Linked DNA regions of Homo sapiens: region 1 is linked to region 2. Evidence: fine-mapped expression QTL. A gene starts in region 2. The other region holds a variant in brackets. All regions are shown on one strand. Distances are between the middles of the regions. Region 1 overlaps SLC1A4 (solute carrier family 1 member 4). Region 2 holds the start of SLC1A4 (solute carrier family 1 member 4).

Evidence for each region. PIP is the estimated chance that this variant, and not a neighbour inherited with it, causes the effect.
Region 1: its variant is fine-mapped to the expression of SLC1A4 in whole blood (INTERVAL, PIP 0.97).

What each region holds. Positions count from the first base shown.
Region 1 is chr2:65,012,583-65,020,582 of GRCh38, reverse strand. It overlaps SLC1A4 (solute carrier family 1 member 4), which reads right to left. Exons shown (of 8, transcript NM_003038.5): 5 at 3,910-4,143; 6 at 2,318-2,512; 7 at 1,904-2,038. Among named protein-coding and RNA genes, the nearest start is that of LINC02576, 14 kb to the left of the region's middle. RefSeq lists an enhancer at 3,478-3,557. The variant A/G (reference allele first, on the strand shown) is at 4,396.
Region 2 is chr2:64,985,175-64,993,681 of GRCh38, reverse strand. SLC1A4 (solute carrier family 1 member 4) reads right to left here and starts at 4,283. Exons shown (of 8, transcript NM_003038.5): 1 at 3,512-4,283. The coding sequence starts at 4,038. RefSeq lists silencers at 3,884-4,063, 4,274-4,973 and enhancers at 3,697-4,281, 7,817-7,886, 8,197-8,266.

The DNA of each region.
Region 1 (8,000 bases), 27 kb before region 2:
TTAAAAATCACACATAAGCCAGGCACAGTGGCTCATGTCTGTAATCCCAGCAATTTGGGAGGCTGAGGTGGGAGGACTGTTTAAGGCCAGGAGTTTGAGACCAGCCTGGGCAACATAGTGAGATCCTATCTCTACAAAAAATAAACAAATTAGCTGGGCATGGTAGAGTGTGCCTGTAATCCTAGCTACTCAGGAGGCTGAGGTGGGGGGATTGCTTGAGTCCAGGAGTTCAAAGCTTCAGTGAGCTATGATGATGCCATTGCACTCTAGCCTGGACCACAGAGTAAGACCCTGACTCTAATAAGTAAACAAATAAACAAACATATTGGGATAATAGTGTGGATACGGTTTTGTGTCTAGCTTTTCTTCCACTGAATAATACACTGTGGGAGTTTCCCTTCTTTTTCTCATTTCAACGCTACTTTACTGCGGATGTTAATCTTCATATGTGTTCCATTGCCATCGGCAAATATAAATACCATCTCAAAGAAAATATCACTATCCTTTCCAGAAGCTAGCTTGTTGTGTTATAGATTAGCCAATACCATTCCCCTGTCCCTGGAGCTCAGAGGAAGTATTGTGCACATTTTGAAGAGAGGGAAAAATGTGATCTTCCCTGAGGGCACTGGGGAGCTGACTCCCTGCAGAGTGCCGTCCTGCTGTCTGCAGAATCAGAGGGGATGGGGTGGCTGGCAGGCCTGTGTGACTTCAGGTCTCCACTGGGCAGCCGGCTTGGTGCCCTGTTTCCCTGTTCCTGGCCAAGCACCTCTTTGATGCCTCTTCTCCACGCACAGGAGGTGGCTGGGTGAGGAAGGAGAGGGGGCCTCTGTCAGCTCTGGTCCTGTCCAGCTGGCCAGCTCAGGGACGGAGTTCCCTCTGATGAGGTGTCTGCGCAATGCAGGTCTCTTTTGCAGATTTTACCCTCATTGCTCTGAGAAGCCCCTTCAAGTTGGAAAAACCACCATTCCCACCTGCAGCAGGCCAGTCCGTGAGCCCAGTGCCAGGCCCTGCCTGTGACGAACCTGGTCTGGAGTGTCTTTCTTTGCTGACATGAATTGAATGTTTTACCACGTGCTCATTATTCTGTGTGCTGTTCCCGTGCTAACTCGCTCAATCTTCCCCACAACCCTGGTGTGGGTGCTATGATCATTCCCATTTTACAGATGAGCAGACCAAAGCACACACAGTGCACATTACACAACTACTAGATGGCAAATCTGGGATTTCAATCCAGGCACCTGGGCTCCAGGGCTCATTTTCTTACCCACAGGCTCTACTGTCTCAACTTTAGTACCTCAGGCAGCCTTCCCTATAAAATAGATATTATTCATGCCTGCAAAAGGTATCATGTGACTCAAGGAATCCATGCACAGAAACTGTTTTGTGTCTTCACAGCAGCCCCAGAGATGTGGTCTGGATCACACCTTCTTCCCTACCTCCTCCTCTGCTGAGCCCAAGCCCAAGTCACTCACATCAGCATGGTTCATCCTCCCTCCCCTCACAGAAATCACTCCTTAGAATCTTCCAGGCCAGGGACAATCATTCCCAAAGGATCACTGCTCCATCGACTTATTACTCCTATGCAGTCAGCAACTCCATAGACCCTCGTGTCCCTTGGGCCTGCGCTGAGGGCCTCAGCTGTGGACCCCTGCTTTACTGGATGCTATAAGCAAGTTCTTGGTAATGACATCTCATGGTCATTCCTGGATGTTTGGGGGCATGTGACTCTCATATTGTTTAATTTTTCCTAGCTCTAAATCTTGCCCTTTTAGCTCCACTGTAGCCTCCTTCACAAGGCTGGAGTGTGTCTGAAGTTTCTCTGCATGGCCCAGGCCCAGCAGTGCTAAGCTCCTAGGGAACTCAGTGCAGACTCTTTTTGGTGTTCTCAGGACTTGTTACTTACACAATCCAGTCCACAGCCAGGATCAGAGGCAGGTCATGAGTAGGCAGCCCAATGGCCTCCAGGATAATGGCAATGGTGAGGACCCCTCCAGCTGGCACGCCTGCTGCTCCAACACTGGACGCTGTGGCAGTCACTCTAAGGGATGGCAGAGCAGGGCCAGCCATTAACATAGAGCGTGGAGTGGACACAGAGAAATGCAGACCATGCAGCTGCAATGTGGCTGGAAACTAAAAACCGCCCCACCATAGGCTCTGCTGGCTACGCCCTTGAGAGTCAACACACGCTCTTCAAGTAATGAATCCCCACTGTCCTCATTTTATGAGCGAGACACCAAGTTGTGGTGAGATTGGTTTTTCAAAGGAAATCACAAGAAAAGCCTTCAGTTTTGAGCCAGGGAAAGAATGAGGAACTTACAGAATGGTGAAAATCTGTCCTGCGTTGAGCTCTACGTTGTTGAGTTGCGCAATGAACACCGCGGCCACACACTGGAAGATGGCTGCTCCGTCCATGTTCACGGTGGCCCCGATGGGGAGAATAAACCTGCTGATCCTCTTGTCCACACCATTGTTCTCTTCAATGCACTTCATCATAGAGGGAAGGGTCGCTGAGCTAGAAATGGGAAAAACAAACCGCCAGACATGACAACAGTCCGAGGCAGGCTAACATGTGTCTTGTCTCAGACCCCAGAACAGAGCAATTAGCACCATCTTCGTTTCTGGCTTTCTTCTCTTGAAATAAGGGAAAAAACAGAATCACTTTAAAACTTCTGTCACAACATGAGGCTTTGGCAACTCCCAAGATACTTAAAATATGACTGCCTTCATTTACCTATTCTGTCATTTACTTGGATTCACGTGTTCCAAGTTTCTTAAGAACTGCACATTGCCTCCCGGTGCAAAACGTTCCCGAGAGAACAAACAACTAGTTTCTCTACATGTGCATCTCCTCTCTTGAGTGTTCCCCTCCCAAAAGTAAATGGTAAACTATGATTTTTTTTTCTTTTAGGCCAAAACCCAGAAATGGCTCTGTGAGCTTGGAAGAATAACTAAGTAGATAACCATAAGAACAGTACCTGCTCCCTCTAGCTGGCTCTGCGGGCTCTGCAGAGGTTAGTTGGTGCAGCTGAGAAACAGGTTTTTGTCTAGGCCAGAGGAACTTCCTTCCCTAATTTTTTTTTTTTTTTTACTCCCACCTCTGTGTTATATAAATAGCCATCCAGATTGGGAGGAAGTGAGCAGTAGAGGCAAAACTAAATGTGTGAATGAAACGACGTGCTGCCGTCCTTTGAAAGTTTTAACATATTTGGAAAACCCAGTGTTTTTTTTTTTTTTTAAGGTTTTCCAGTGAATGACAGGATGCATCTCTTGTGCCAAATGAGACAATCCCACACTATTGTGGACTCCTAGAGGGCTAAGCATCCATCCCTCACCACGGTGCCTCAGACTCGTTTTCTAATTCACATATCCAGAAAGGGAGAATTGGGCAGGAACCATTCTAGAAACTTCCCTGCAATGCATTTTTGAGTTAGGTGGGCTGCCTTCTTTTACTCAGGGAAAGGTCTTCCTAATTAGGGTGAGGGACCCGCAGCTGGGCTAACTAATGATCTGCTGACCTCTAAGGAGCAAGAGGGAGAAGAGAATGAGGTAACTTCAGTAGAATAGTAAATGAAACAGAAACCCACCCCAGGGGAATACAGAAAAGCTTTGGGGCTGGTCATTTTAAGAAATCATGTGAGGCTTGGTGTGGCTGTGCATGCCTGTAATCACAGCTATTCGGAAGGCCGAGGTGGGAGGATCACTTGAGCCCAGGAGTTCGAGACCAGCCTGGGCAATCACGGGAAGATCCTGTCTCTTAAAGAAGAAAAAACAAAAAAATAACAGAAGACCGATTTAGAGTTTTCCAGGAATTAAAGTATGTCAAGACACTGGTTGTGCATCTACCACTGGGCTCACCTGGTTCCATGTTAACATGGCTCAGAGCAGTGAAGAGACCCAAAACCCACTCACCTGGAGCAGGTAGCAAATGCTGTCGCAAATGGGGCGAGGAGGCCCAGGAGGAATCTGAATGGGTTTTTTCGTGTGAAAACAAAATAAATAAGTGGCAGAACAATTCCTCCATGAATAACATGGCCCAATATAGATGCGAAGATGTATTTCCCCAGGCTGGTCACCAGCACGATGATGTCTTTCATTTCCACGATCTTGCTTCCAACAAGGAACATGATGCCCACAGGTACGTACCTAGGGCACAAGCACAGGGTACTCATCAGTGGGGGATAAAGCTGGGGTGAGAGATGCAGGTCCTTCCTGAGGCAGAATGCAGGGACTTTCAGCCAGGCCGTCTTCATCTCTCCCTAGGATAACCCCGAGGAACCGAAACAGTCAGGGTTATACCATCCCCATTTTACAGCCTGTGAGACTGGGTAAAATGAGGCTGACCACTCACCAAGGGTAACAGAGTCAGGACCAGAACCCAGACGTCTTTCCCCTTGG[A/G]TACAGTATGTCCTTAACAGAAGGATGCTACCAGTCACAGGGATTCCCAGGAGGAAAGGCAAGGAAATCGAGATCAAAGCCTCCAGGACTGTAAGCCTGACTTTTGGCTTTGCTCAGGCTTGTTCTGAGAACTTAGAAACACAAAAGACTAACACCTATTTCACAGAGTGGCTGTGATAGAAAATTGAGCCAAAGCTAGGACTTTTGTGAAGTTTTAAATTCTTTGTGGCTTAGACAACATGATTCCGTGGGAAAAAGTCATTAACAATGACACTCTGGGAACACGCCTGGAGCGTGAGAGTTTTTTAAAGGCAGGATGGGAAGGAATGGACTGTGGGAGCTACAAAGAACAAAAGTCAGTTGTTTTGAATTAATATAAATTCAGGAAGAATTTTCTAACTGCTGACTTTATTTGTAAATTTTAATTGCGTAGGTAATAATGTCACATAGTTCAAATTTCAAGGGGTACAAAAGAGTGAACAGAGTGAAGTCTCCCTCTCATCTCTCTCCCAAGCACCCAGATTTCCCCTCCCTGGAGACAATGTCACTGGTTTCTTGAGTTTTCTTTCTAGAGATATTCTAAGCAGTAATTATTAATTAAAAACCCGATAGTAATACATGAATACATTCTCCTTTCAAAAAATTAAAACGTAGATGACACCAAAATCCTCTTTAAGTACCATCCTTAAGCCAGGATCCTCCTCAAATAGACACTCCTACCTCCTATGCAATTAGATACATAGGTATGTATTTAAATCTATGTGTTTTTTTCTTTTTCACCCTATATTACATCTTTGAAATCTTTTCATATCAATACATAGAAATCTACCCCATTCATTTTTTAATGTGGTAAAATATACATAAAATTTACCATCTTAACCATTTTTAAGTGTAGAGTTCAGTGGCATGAAGTTCATTCACATTCTTGTGCAACTATCATCACTATCCAAATCCAGAACTTTTCCATCATCCCAAACTTTGAAATCATTAAACATAACAGCCTACTTTCCCCTCCTCACAGTTCCTGAGAATCACTGTTCTACTTCTTGTCTCTCTGAATTTGACTATTCTAGGTACACAAAGGTGGAATCATACAGTGTTTGTCCTTTTGTGTCTAGGTTATTCCACTTATGATGTCTTCGGGCTTCATCCACATTGGAGCATGAGCTAGAATTGTACTCCTTTCTAAGGCTGAATAATATTCTGTTGTATGTCTCTATCTCATTTTGTTTATCCATTCATCCAATGATGGACATTTGGGTTGTTTCCACCTTTACCTCATTGTCTTTAAATATTATCTTCAGAATGGAAATACCATAGGTTATTTTGTCATCGTCCTGTTGGTGGATGTTTAAGTTGTTCCCAGGTTTATCGTTACAAACGACACTGCAAACATACTTTGTGGTAACCACATGCCTTTGTTCTCTAGGTAGAGATGCTAAGAAGTGAACTGCTAAGTTATAGGATGTGCATATTTTAAATTTCAGTAGATACTGCCACTTTGTTCTCCAAAGTGGTTATTCCATATCACATTCCCACCAGCAGTCCAGGAGAATAATCTTCCCTCTGCAACAGTGGTTCTTATCCAGGGATGATTTTGTCTGGAAGACAGTTTGGTTGTCATAACTTTTGGGGCATGGTGCTAGTGGCATCATGCAGGTGGGGGCCAGGATGGTGCTAAACATCCTACAGTCATGAGACAGCCTCCCACAAAGACTGATCAGCCCAAAATGTCAATAGTGTCATGGTTGAGAAACCTCACCCTCACCATTATCAATGCCTGATAAAACCAAATTTTCATTTCCCTTATTTCTAATGAGGTTGAGCATCCCTTAAAATGTTTACTGGTAATTCAGGTTTCACATACTTTGTCTATTTTCTGATGGTTTGTTCAGTGATTTTTCTTTTTCAGTAATCAGAACTCTTTTTTTCTATATATGCAGTATGCAAATATATATATCAATTTTTAGAAATGAATGTCTTGACTTTTAACTTTGTTCAAAGTATCTTTTGCATGCAGACTTTTTATATTTTGATGTGGTTAAGTTTAGCAGCTTTTTATGGCTTTTGCTTTTTATATCTTGTTTAGGAAGGCTTTCCCTGCCTCTATATTTTCTTCTAATATTTTTAGAAGACTCCTCTCTTTCTTTCCTTCTTTTCTTCCTTTCTCCCTGGTCAGTTTAATCCAGGAGTTAGCAGCGTGAGTTTTTGTAAATAAAGTTTTGTTGGAACACAGTCATGCTCTTTCATTTACAAATTGTGAATAGGTACTTTTCTCCTACAGTGGCAGAGTTGGGTAGTTGCAATAGAGAGCATGTGGCTTGCAAAGTTGGCTGACTCTGGGTTTAATACATCTGAAAGTTATTTCTGTGAATAGTGTAGGGTAGGCAGGTACTAGGGTTTTGGAGTGGGTAGTTAGTAAAAGAAAGATTGCAGAAAGCGGTAATACTGACAATGCCTCCCATACTTGGTTGAGATCCCTTAACTAGTTAAGGCATTTTAAACTTCAATTCTGTGTAATATGCATTTCTGAGCAACAGGTCTCTCGCTCTCTTGCTGCAGTTAGACATTCAGCAGGATCTGCCTTACTGAATACCTGCTTATGTGACTGGTACATCAAATTGAAGGAATGACTAAACTGGTTTCCAGATTAAAAGCAAATGTCCGGCCGGGCGCTATGGCTCATGCCTGTAATCCTAGCACTTTGGGAGGCCAAGGTGGGCGGATCACCTGAGGTCGGGAGTTTGGGACCAGCCTGACCAACATGGAGAAACCCTGTCTCTACTAAAAATACAAAATTAGCTGGACGTGGTGGCGCATGCCTGTAATCCCAGCTTCTCGGGAGGCTGAGGCAGGAGAATCGCTTGAACCTGGGAGGCGGAGGTTGCGGTGAGCCAAAATTGTGCCACTGCACTGCAGCCTGGGCAACAAGAGTGAAACTCCGTCTCAAAAACAAACAAAACAAAACAAAATGCAAATGTCCTAACATGGACGTATCAGTGATATGGTTTGGATTTATGTCCTCACCCAAATCTCATATTGAATTGTAATCCCCCACCTTCCCCCTGTCTTTCTTCCTCCTGCTCTGGCCATGTGAAGACATGCCTGCTTCCCCTTCACCTTCTGCCATGCTTGTAAGTTTCCTGAGGCCTTCCCAGCCATGCTTCCTGTATAGCCTGTAGAACTGTGAGCCAATTAAACCTCTCTTCATTATAAATTACCCAGTTTCAGGTATTTCTTCATAGCAGTGTGAGAACGGACTAATACAATCAGTTTTTTTACTTTTAAATTTAATTTAATTGTTTATATTTTGTAGAGATAGGGCCTCACTTTTTTGCCCAGGCTGGTCTTGAACTCCTGAGCTCAAGCAATACTCTGGCCTTGGCCTCCCAAAGTGCCGGGATTACAGGCATGAGCCACTGCGCCTGCCCCAATTTCTTTTTTTTAGTCTAAACTTTGGAAAATATTAATATTTTAGACTTAACAAAAGCCAAGAAAAGAACTTGACATCTAAATACCTTTTCTTTTCTGAAAATATCAGTTCTCTCCCTAGAACAACAATCACATGAAATGGCATTGGCAGTGATAGAGTCAGGCTCTGGAAT
Region 2 (8,507 bases):
TTCCTGATAACCTGTTTCTGTCTCTTTGGTGCCCAACCATTTCATTTTGGATAAAAACCCACAAGTCAACCACTTAGGTCACACATGGTTCTGAAAGTCCTATACTGTTCTGGATTCCCAGGCACAGAACTCCGGGCTGCTCAGGAAGAGACTATGATTCTTCCACCTGCCAGCTACTATTGGCCATCCCTTCTCATTGCTTCTAGCTCCAGCCTTCTCATCCCAATTCTCTATTCTACATTGTTATTTCTAACCCATTGTGTGCTGGGAAATCAAACCACTCAGCAATGACATTCTGAATTTTAAAAAAACATATACACATGTAATGAATACCTACTAGCTTCATCTCTTTCTGACTTGTAGTTCCAGCTTTAAAAACCAAATTAGAAATCATGACAGAGAGACCCTGGGGGATTTGGGGGCACTTTACCATCAGGAAAGGGCATGGACTTTAGCACAAAGCCTCAGCAGCAGCTATGCTGACTCATCAGAGGCCTTTCCCACTCTTCCAGGTGTTTAAGTTCTGAGCAGCTACCTCGAGAGGGCCTGCTGGATAACTGAGGCGTTTACTGGCAGAGTCTCATTTCATTCACGTGCCCCTAGGAAGAAAGGAATGGGGCACTGCCTTTCCAAAGAAGATGCCCAGAGTCACATGAAATCCACATCCGTGAAGTTTCCTTGAAGGAAGCAATTTTTTAATTTTGATGTCAGAGACTCTCCAGACTCAGGAAGCATTTCCGGGTGGCTTGGGACTTAGTTTCCTTTCACAAGCTGCTTCAGCCTGAGACCAAACCTCAGCGGTGCACACATACTTTCCTTCACTTGAGGAGCTCAGCCTCCACGCTGGCTGGAGGAAAGGAGCATTTGTCTTTACCCAGTCATATGCCTACCTGGTTCCTCTCTGGGCCCAGAGAAAGCATTTCTGAGATAGCCACACTAGACTAGGCAGGTGACATTACTAAGGCATGTTGACTTGGAGGAAGAGGGATTAGGAGAAAGAGAGAGAACCCTGCACTGTGGGGTAGGAGACCCACAGTCCTTCTAATCTCTTCTTTATAAGCCACTCCATGACCTTGAGCAAATCGCTTAATCTCTGTCTCAGTTTTGTCAGTCATAAAATGGGATATACCACCTGCCCTACCTTTATCCGTGAGCTGCTGGATTAGATGAAGTTGGCTGTTGGAAGAATTATGAAGCAATACCTATCCCCAGCAAGCCACAACAAAGCCTCTCTTAGCCCTCCATGCAGGTGCAGCCCAAGTCATTGAAAAGTTGCACCCACACTACTAAGCTATGACGCTGGGTCACCATCCATGTCAGAAGCAGGAGGTGAAGGGGCTTGGGTCTAAAACTAGAAAACCATGATCAGGAAACAAGAAGTCCCTTCAGGAGGTAATGAGGTACCCCCTACCACCACTGCCCCCTCTTCTGGAGTTAAAAGATCCTATTGAGGCTCCCGGTGCGGGACCATAGCAGGACAGAGCTGAACATCCATTCTCCCTCCCTGGGCCACAGATCCCTGCAAAGAATAATCCTTTAACCCCATTATTGCCTTTCCTCCCTGAGAGAGCTGACCGACCTCCTACAGGTAATAGGCTAAAGGTGCTCTCAACCTCAGGAGACTTCTTTTCAGCACTCACCTAAAAGTTAGTTTCCAAACTTAAAAAGTGTCTGGACTCCAAATATCAAGCTGCCAGTCACAGAACAAAGGCTGTGATCTAGACCAGCCTGGGCAGCATAGTGAAACCCCATCTCTAAAAAAATTTAAAACAGTTAGCTGGGGCCAGGCAGGGTGGCTCACACCTGTAATCCCAGCACTTTGGGAGGCCGAGGCGGGTGGCTCACGAGGTCAGGAGATCAAGACCATCCTGGCTAACATGGTGAAACCCCGTCTCTACTAAAAAATACAAAAAATTAGCCGGGCGTGGTGGCACGCGCCTGTAATCCCAGCTACTCGGGAGGCTGAGGCAGGAGAATGGCGTGAACCCAGGAGGCGGAGCTTGCAGTGAGCCGAGATCGCACACTGCACTCCAGCCTGGGTGACAGAGCGAGACTCCGTCTCAAAAAACAAACAAACAAACAAACAAAAAGCTGGGTGTGGTGGTGTGCACCTGTAATCTCAGCTACTCTGGAGACTGAGGCAGGAGGATCGCTGAAGCCTAGGAGTTCGGGGATGCAGTGAGCTAGGATCCCAACACTGCACTCCAGTCTGGGCAAAAGAGCAAGACCCAGACTTTAAAAAAAAAAAAAAAAAAAAAAAGCTGTGATCCCCTTAAAAGTCCTAATAGGCCACCACTATCTGCCCTTTTGGCAAGAACTTTTGGTCTCCCTCATGAGTGGTTTTTTTTTGTTGTTGTTTGTTTGTTTTTAAATACGGATGTCCTAGATTTTTGTTGTTTTAAGTGAACAATCTCTCTCTTAAGTGCAGACAGCCATCACATTTTCCAGAAGGAGAAATGGAAACAGTTGGAAAGGCAAGTCACTTTGCCCAGGGTTTGCTGTTTTTCACAACCTCAGCAATGAGGAGCTTTGCCTCAATAACTCAAGACAAAATATATTAATAACTCCAAGGCTCAGAATCCAAAATCATCAGAAATCTGGAGAAGGAGCCAGCTGGACTCCTCACTCAACTGAACCTGGTTAGATCAGTAAATGCCTCCGGGCTGCAGTTTCCCCATTTGTGAACTTTGGGCTAATGGAGAAACCAGGAGAGACCAAGGTTTTGGATAAGTCACAGAAAGGATACTACATCATCTCAAAGGATGAAATGCAACTTCTAAGAATTGCAAAAAGCAGGCAAAACTAAGTGAAGATGCTTCTCTCCCTCCCCTCTAGAACTCACACTTTCGCACAAAGAAAGGCCTTTGAAACACAGCACTCTGCCGTGGTCTTTACTGGGGTGGACAGCAACCTGTCCCAAGCCCCAAGCCCTCAGGAGAGGCATATTTCTGGGCAATATGTCTCACTCAACTAACCCCAGCCCTATTATCCGTGGGTCCACTGATAACTGCAGAAAATTGCCAGCTTCCTTCGCAGCCAAGGACTGTAACAGAGAAGGCCATAGATTGCAAGCCGGATGACCCAAGAGGCAAAACTTAACCAATGCTCCCAGAAGCTTTTAGGCACCATGTGGGAGAAAATGAGGCGAAGCCACTGGGGCGTGGTCGGAACATTTTTACCGGGGAGAGCAGCGCGAGAGTATAAGGAGTAAAGAACAGGCGGGGCGGCTGGCTCTTCCCTAACAAACGCCCACCTAACGGTGGGGACTGGTTCTTGCTCAAAGATGCGGCCCTGCTCTTTCGATTGTGCGGTGCGCCCCAGCTGTTTGCAAAGGTGTGGTCAGCACGCAAAAACTCCAGACGTCATTTTGATATTTTTAAAACGTTAAACGCCACCAGCAGCCAGCTAAGAATTAACTCTTAGGAGTGTATAAGCATATGGGTGTATGAACTGGAGGGCATCCGAGAACTGGCGTCTCCCACTGGGCCCTGGGAGAGGTGGAGAGTGTTACCTGGCCAGGTCGAGGAAAGAGTCCACCGTCTCTTTGGGGACAGGAGGAGGCCCCGAGTCCTCCAGCCCCAGGTCGCTGGACTGAAGGGTCTGCGCACCGGATCCTGGCTTGATGATGAACGCCAAGGCCACGGCGAGCGCCGAGGCACTCAGTGTGGTGAGGCCAAAGTAGGCGACAGCGATGCCGCCCAGACGCCCGAGGCAGCTGGCATCGAGCGAGGCGGCGCCCGACACCAGGCTGCAGACCACCAGCGGCAGGATGATCATGCGCAGCATGCGGAGCAGCATCTCGCCGGGGAAGGCCAGGTAGGTGACCTGCGTGCGGCTCAGGCTGAGCCCGCGCAACGCCGCGCCCAGGCCCGCGCCCGCCAGCACCCCGGACACGGTGAGCAGCACCAGCGCTTGGCGCCGCAGGAAGCCCGCGCAACGCCGTGCGCGTCCCGCCGCGGTCCCCGGAGCTCCGGGCCCGGCCGCAGGCCCCGCCTGAGCGCTGTCAAGGTAGCCGTTGGTCTCGTTGCTCTTCTCCATGGCGCTACACGCCGCTCCGAGCTAGAGGTGGCAGGGGACGTGGGCTCTGGCAAAAGACGGGGTTCCCAATGAATGGGTCGGTCGGCCAGTTGTGCTCCGCAGGTTCTGGGAAGCCGCCCCGGGGGTCTCCGGGCCTGGCGCAGGAGCAGGTGCGAGAAAGGCGAGGAGAGGCGCAGAGTGCGGGTTGGAGCCGCGGGCGGAGAGGATCGCGCCCAGCCTCCCTGGAGCAGCCGCCGGCTGGAGATGATGCAAACGGGAGCCGCGAACGCGGACGCAGACGGGGAAGTAGGAGGGCGCGCCAGCGGCCCCAGCCCGCTCACTTCACGCCCGCCGTCCCGCCCCCTGTGGCGCTGGCCAATCACAGCCCGGGAGCCGCCGCCGGGAGCCGCCGCCGGGAGCCTCTGGTCCCCACCCGTGTCGCGGGTGCCGCAGGGGGCGGCCGGGCGGGAGGCTCCACCCGAGGCCGCGGGGGCGCGGGCGGCGCCGGCCAATCCTGGCGCCAATAGCCGCCTACCCGCCCGGCTAACGGAGGCCGGCTCCGGGCGACCGCGGGGAAGTGCGGGCTGAAGGACCGCCCGGGCTCCTTGGCACCTGCCGGGCCCTCTCCCGCGGCCGGGATCTGAGTCCTCGGGGCCAGAGGGCCCGGGAGAACTTAGAACGCAGCGGCGTTCCTCCTCCTGAGGACTGTGGGAGGGGAGGGAGGGGAGGGGAGAAGAGAGGAGGAGAGGGGAGGATCCCTCTCTCCCGGGTGGCGCTTTCGCCCCGCGCGGCCCGCGCTCCTCTCCAGAGCTCGCCGGCCTCTCCCGCCAGGGGGCCGGGCGCGGTGAGGGGGCCCGGGGCGGTCCTGCCGTCGCGTCCCCTCCTGCGGAAGATCCCTTCTTCCAGGGGTCCTCAGGGGCTTGTGCGGTAAAGCACGCCATGGTGCCCAGCAAGGCCCCGGCCTTGAGACAAAGGACGGACCGGAGGATGGATGAATAAGGGGAGCCTTCGCACGCGCTCATTAGGGCTCTAACGCAGCCATACCGCTAGAGAAAGGGGGCTCGCTGTGCCACCAAACCCGGCGCCCCTGGGCCGCGGAACCGCGCGCACCGGGGCGCTCCTGGGCTTGTGTCCTGGGGCCATCAGGATGGGGCTGGGTCGCCCGCCAGGCAGCTGTCTGCGGTATGGGCGTTTAAGACGCAAAGCTCTTCTAGAAGAAACAGAGCTCTCACGCCACCACTTCCAGTTGGTTTCTGCCACGTAACCAAAGCTGAAACACAAGCCACTGGATTTTAACCTCTTCCGTTCCCAGGCCTGAGCCCTGGCGAGAAAACAGCGCAGACGGCGGTTTGGCCATCCTGAACGGTTCCTTATTGTTCACGTTCTATGGATTTCCTGTTTATTTCATCTTTTATTTGATATCTGCTTTGGCCACGCGAGTTACAAGGGAAACTTCTGCTGAGTCTTTTTACTGTATCACAGTTATTATATTTTTATATTTTTTTATTCTGCTTGTGAATTGTTCTTTAAAGACTTCCGTGGGTGGTCTTTTGTTTTTTCTTTTTCCTTCCTTCCTTCCTTCCTTCCTTCCTTCCTTCCTTCCTTCCTTCCTCCCCCCCTCCCTCCCTCCCTCCCTTCCTTCCTTCTTTCCTTCTTTCCCTTTCTTTCCTTTCTTTCCTCTCTTTCTGGGACAAGGTCTCGCTATGTTGCCCAGGCTGGTCTCCCAGTTCCTGGGCTTATGGGATCCTCCTTGGTAGCTGGCACCACCCACTGTGCCAGGCAAGGGAAGACTTAATTGTGGCTAACCTCAATTAAGGAGGAAGGCAATTTACTATAGATTTCTTGCTATAAAGGAGTCATCTTAAAACATGTCATGACATATTTGTGCAAATCAAAATGCCTTCATAAGGAACTTTAAGGAGCTGTCCAAATTTTGAGACAGTGAGTATTTTATTGCTTGGAGCCAGCCAGCTATTGGCTAGAACTTGTAAGGATTGTGTGTGGGGGGGGGGGGGGTGGGCGGGGGAGGTAGTGTCAGATGAAGAGCTGCACATATTTATATCTGGCTTTCCAGAATGCAGTTCATTTCTCTATGTGCACTGAAGAAAGAGTAATTCCTACAGACACACACTGTGTTTTGCCAATCAGCCCTTCCCTTTGTTTTGACTACCACGTTTATGCAAAAGACTCTCAAATCATGCTCCAGAAATGAGTCTTCGGCTGCCTGTTTTACATCTTCACCTGAATATCCTGCAGGCGTCCCAACTAAAATGTTCAAAACCAAACTCATGGTTGCCTTCCTCAAACCTGCTCATCCCTTCGGTTAAAACATAATTGATGACCCAGTCACCTCTGTGTGAAACTTCAAAGCGAACTTTGATTCTTCCCTCTGTGGTGCCTTCTCTCATCTAATGAATTGCCAAGTCCCACAGAGATTCCTTTCACAATATTTATCACATCTGCCCATCCCATCTATTCCCACTGCTACCACACTGGCTCAGTTCTTATTTCCTCACTTCTTATCTGGGCTATTGAAATGTTCTCCCAATTAGTCTTCCCACCTCCAATGCTCCTCTTGTTCCAACCATCCTGTATTTTGCCTTGCCCCAGGCTAATCTTCCTAATGAGTAATATACATGTTAGGATAAAGTTCAGCTTTCACCCAGCAGAAAAGAAAGAGCAATGAGGGCATGGCATCTCTCTTTAAAAACACTTCCTAAAAGTCATACACATTATTTCTCTTATATTTCATCGATAAGAATTTAGTCAAATGACCATTCTTTTCTGCAAGAAACGTTAGGGAATGTAATTTTTGTTTTACACAGGCATCCACCCAGTTAAAAAATTGGAGTTTCTGTTACTAAGGAAACACAGAAAAATGATATTGGAGGACAACTCCTTCATATCACTTCTTGTTCAAAAGCTTTCAGTGGCTCCCAGTGAATTAAGAATGTGTTCCTCATCCTGGCATTCGAGACCTACCATGATCTGGCCTCAGCCTGCTCTCTAGCCATGTGCCCTCTATGCCTCCTGCAAAAATGGCGCTGTGTGCTCCTTCCACATTGTTTTGCCTCTCCATCCAGTCCCAGTTCAGATACCACATTCCTCCCATAGCCTTTCTGAATCCTCTTTGCACCAACTCTGCTTGCTGCTTGCAGCTTTTTATGCTGTACCTGTGCACTCCAAAGCTGCAATAACAGTCAGTCAACCCTCAATTGGGAGTGGGGAACTCCCTGAACTACTAGACATCGTGTGGTGCTGAGTGTGAGAGCACTGTTTGGGGGTGCCTTATACTATGCCACATATATCTGTCATTGAATTAGCGAAAGGGTCTCTTGGGGCCTTTTATCTCCAGAGGGCTGCCCTGTAGCCATTCTGCCTACTTGTGAGGCAAACCAAGAAATAGGTGTCCTCTTCTGGCCTCCGTGACATTTGGTGGTATTACTATATCTCTCTATGAAAGGGTTCACTTTCTGCCACCTTTTTCCCTCTTTCTTCCTCTCCTTTTGCATTTTTTGGTCTTTTGATAATTTTACATGCCTCCTGTTTGTAGGTATTTTGTGCAAAAAAAAAGTTGATTCCTGTGTTAGACACCTTCCCCCACAGTACTTATATGTGTTTTCCCTGATTTCTGGATGCGTAAGTACTGAATTATAGCAACGCCTTACAAGTGATCCAGCCTGACAGCATTACCGCTACTGTCATCTGATCCCGTGATAGGCTAAAGTATTGTTCAGCCAAAATTTATTCCCTTGTTTCTTCCACTTAGATAGGAGTTTACCTTCCCCATTGCCTTTGAGCTTTGCCATTTAGCTCCTTGGCTAGTGGACTAAGTGGATGTGATGCAAGCGGAGGCATCAAAATGTTTTCACACAATCGCATGTGGACTCCTGCATACGTGTGACCCAGCATGCCTTGGGTAGATGCTGCCCTTTCAGCCTGGCACCAGAACAAAGACAGGAGTGTGCCTGAATTTAGCCTGCAGCCCTGATCAAACCCAGCTGCCTCACAGCCTAAAGAAGAACACCCCAGTCAACCCACAGACCCATGCGTGAGAAAAATAAATGCTTATTGAAACCCACTGAGTTCCGGAGTCATGTGTTATACTGCGTTATTGTAGCAATAACTGAGTAATACAAATGCTCACTTCAGCATCTGTTCCAGTTATCTGTTGCTGCATAACAAACCAGCCTAAACCACGCTGGCATAAAACAACAACCATCTCAAAAAGGAGTGGCATAAAACAACCACCAATTTTTTTATGCTCATGATTTTATAGGCCAGAAATTCAGACAGGGCATAACAGGAGGTCTCATTTCTGTTTCACAATGACTGAAACCCCAAGCTGGGGTGGCTTAATGGCTAGAGATGGCTAGGACAGCTCACTTGGGGTCCTTTGCCTGAGGCCTAGGTTCTGGCTATCTATTAGGATCCTCGTTTCTTTCCCACATTGCATCTATTGAGTCTGGAATGTCCAAGATGCCTCTTTC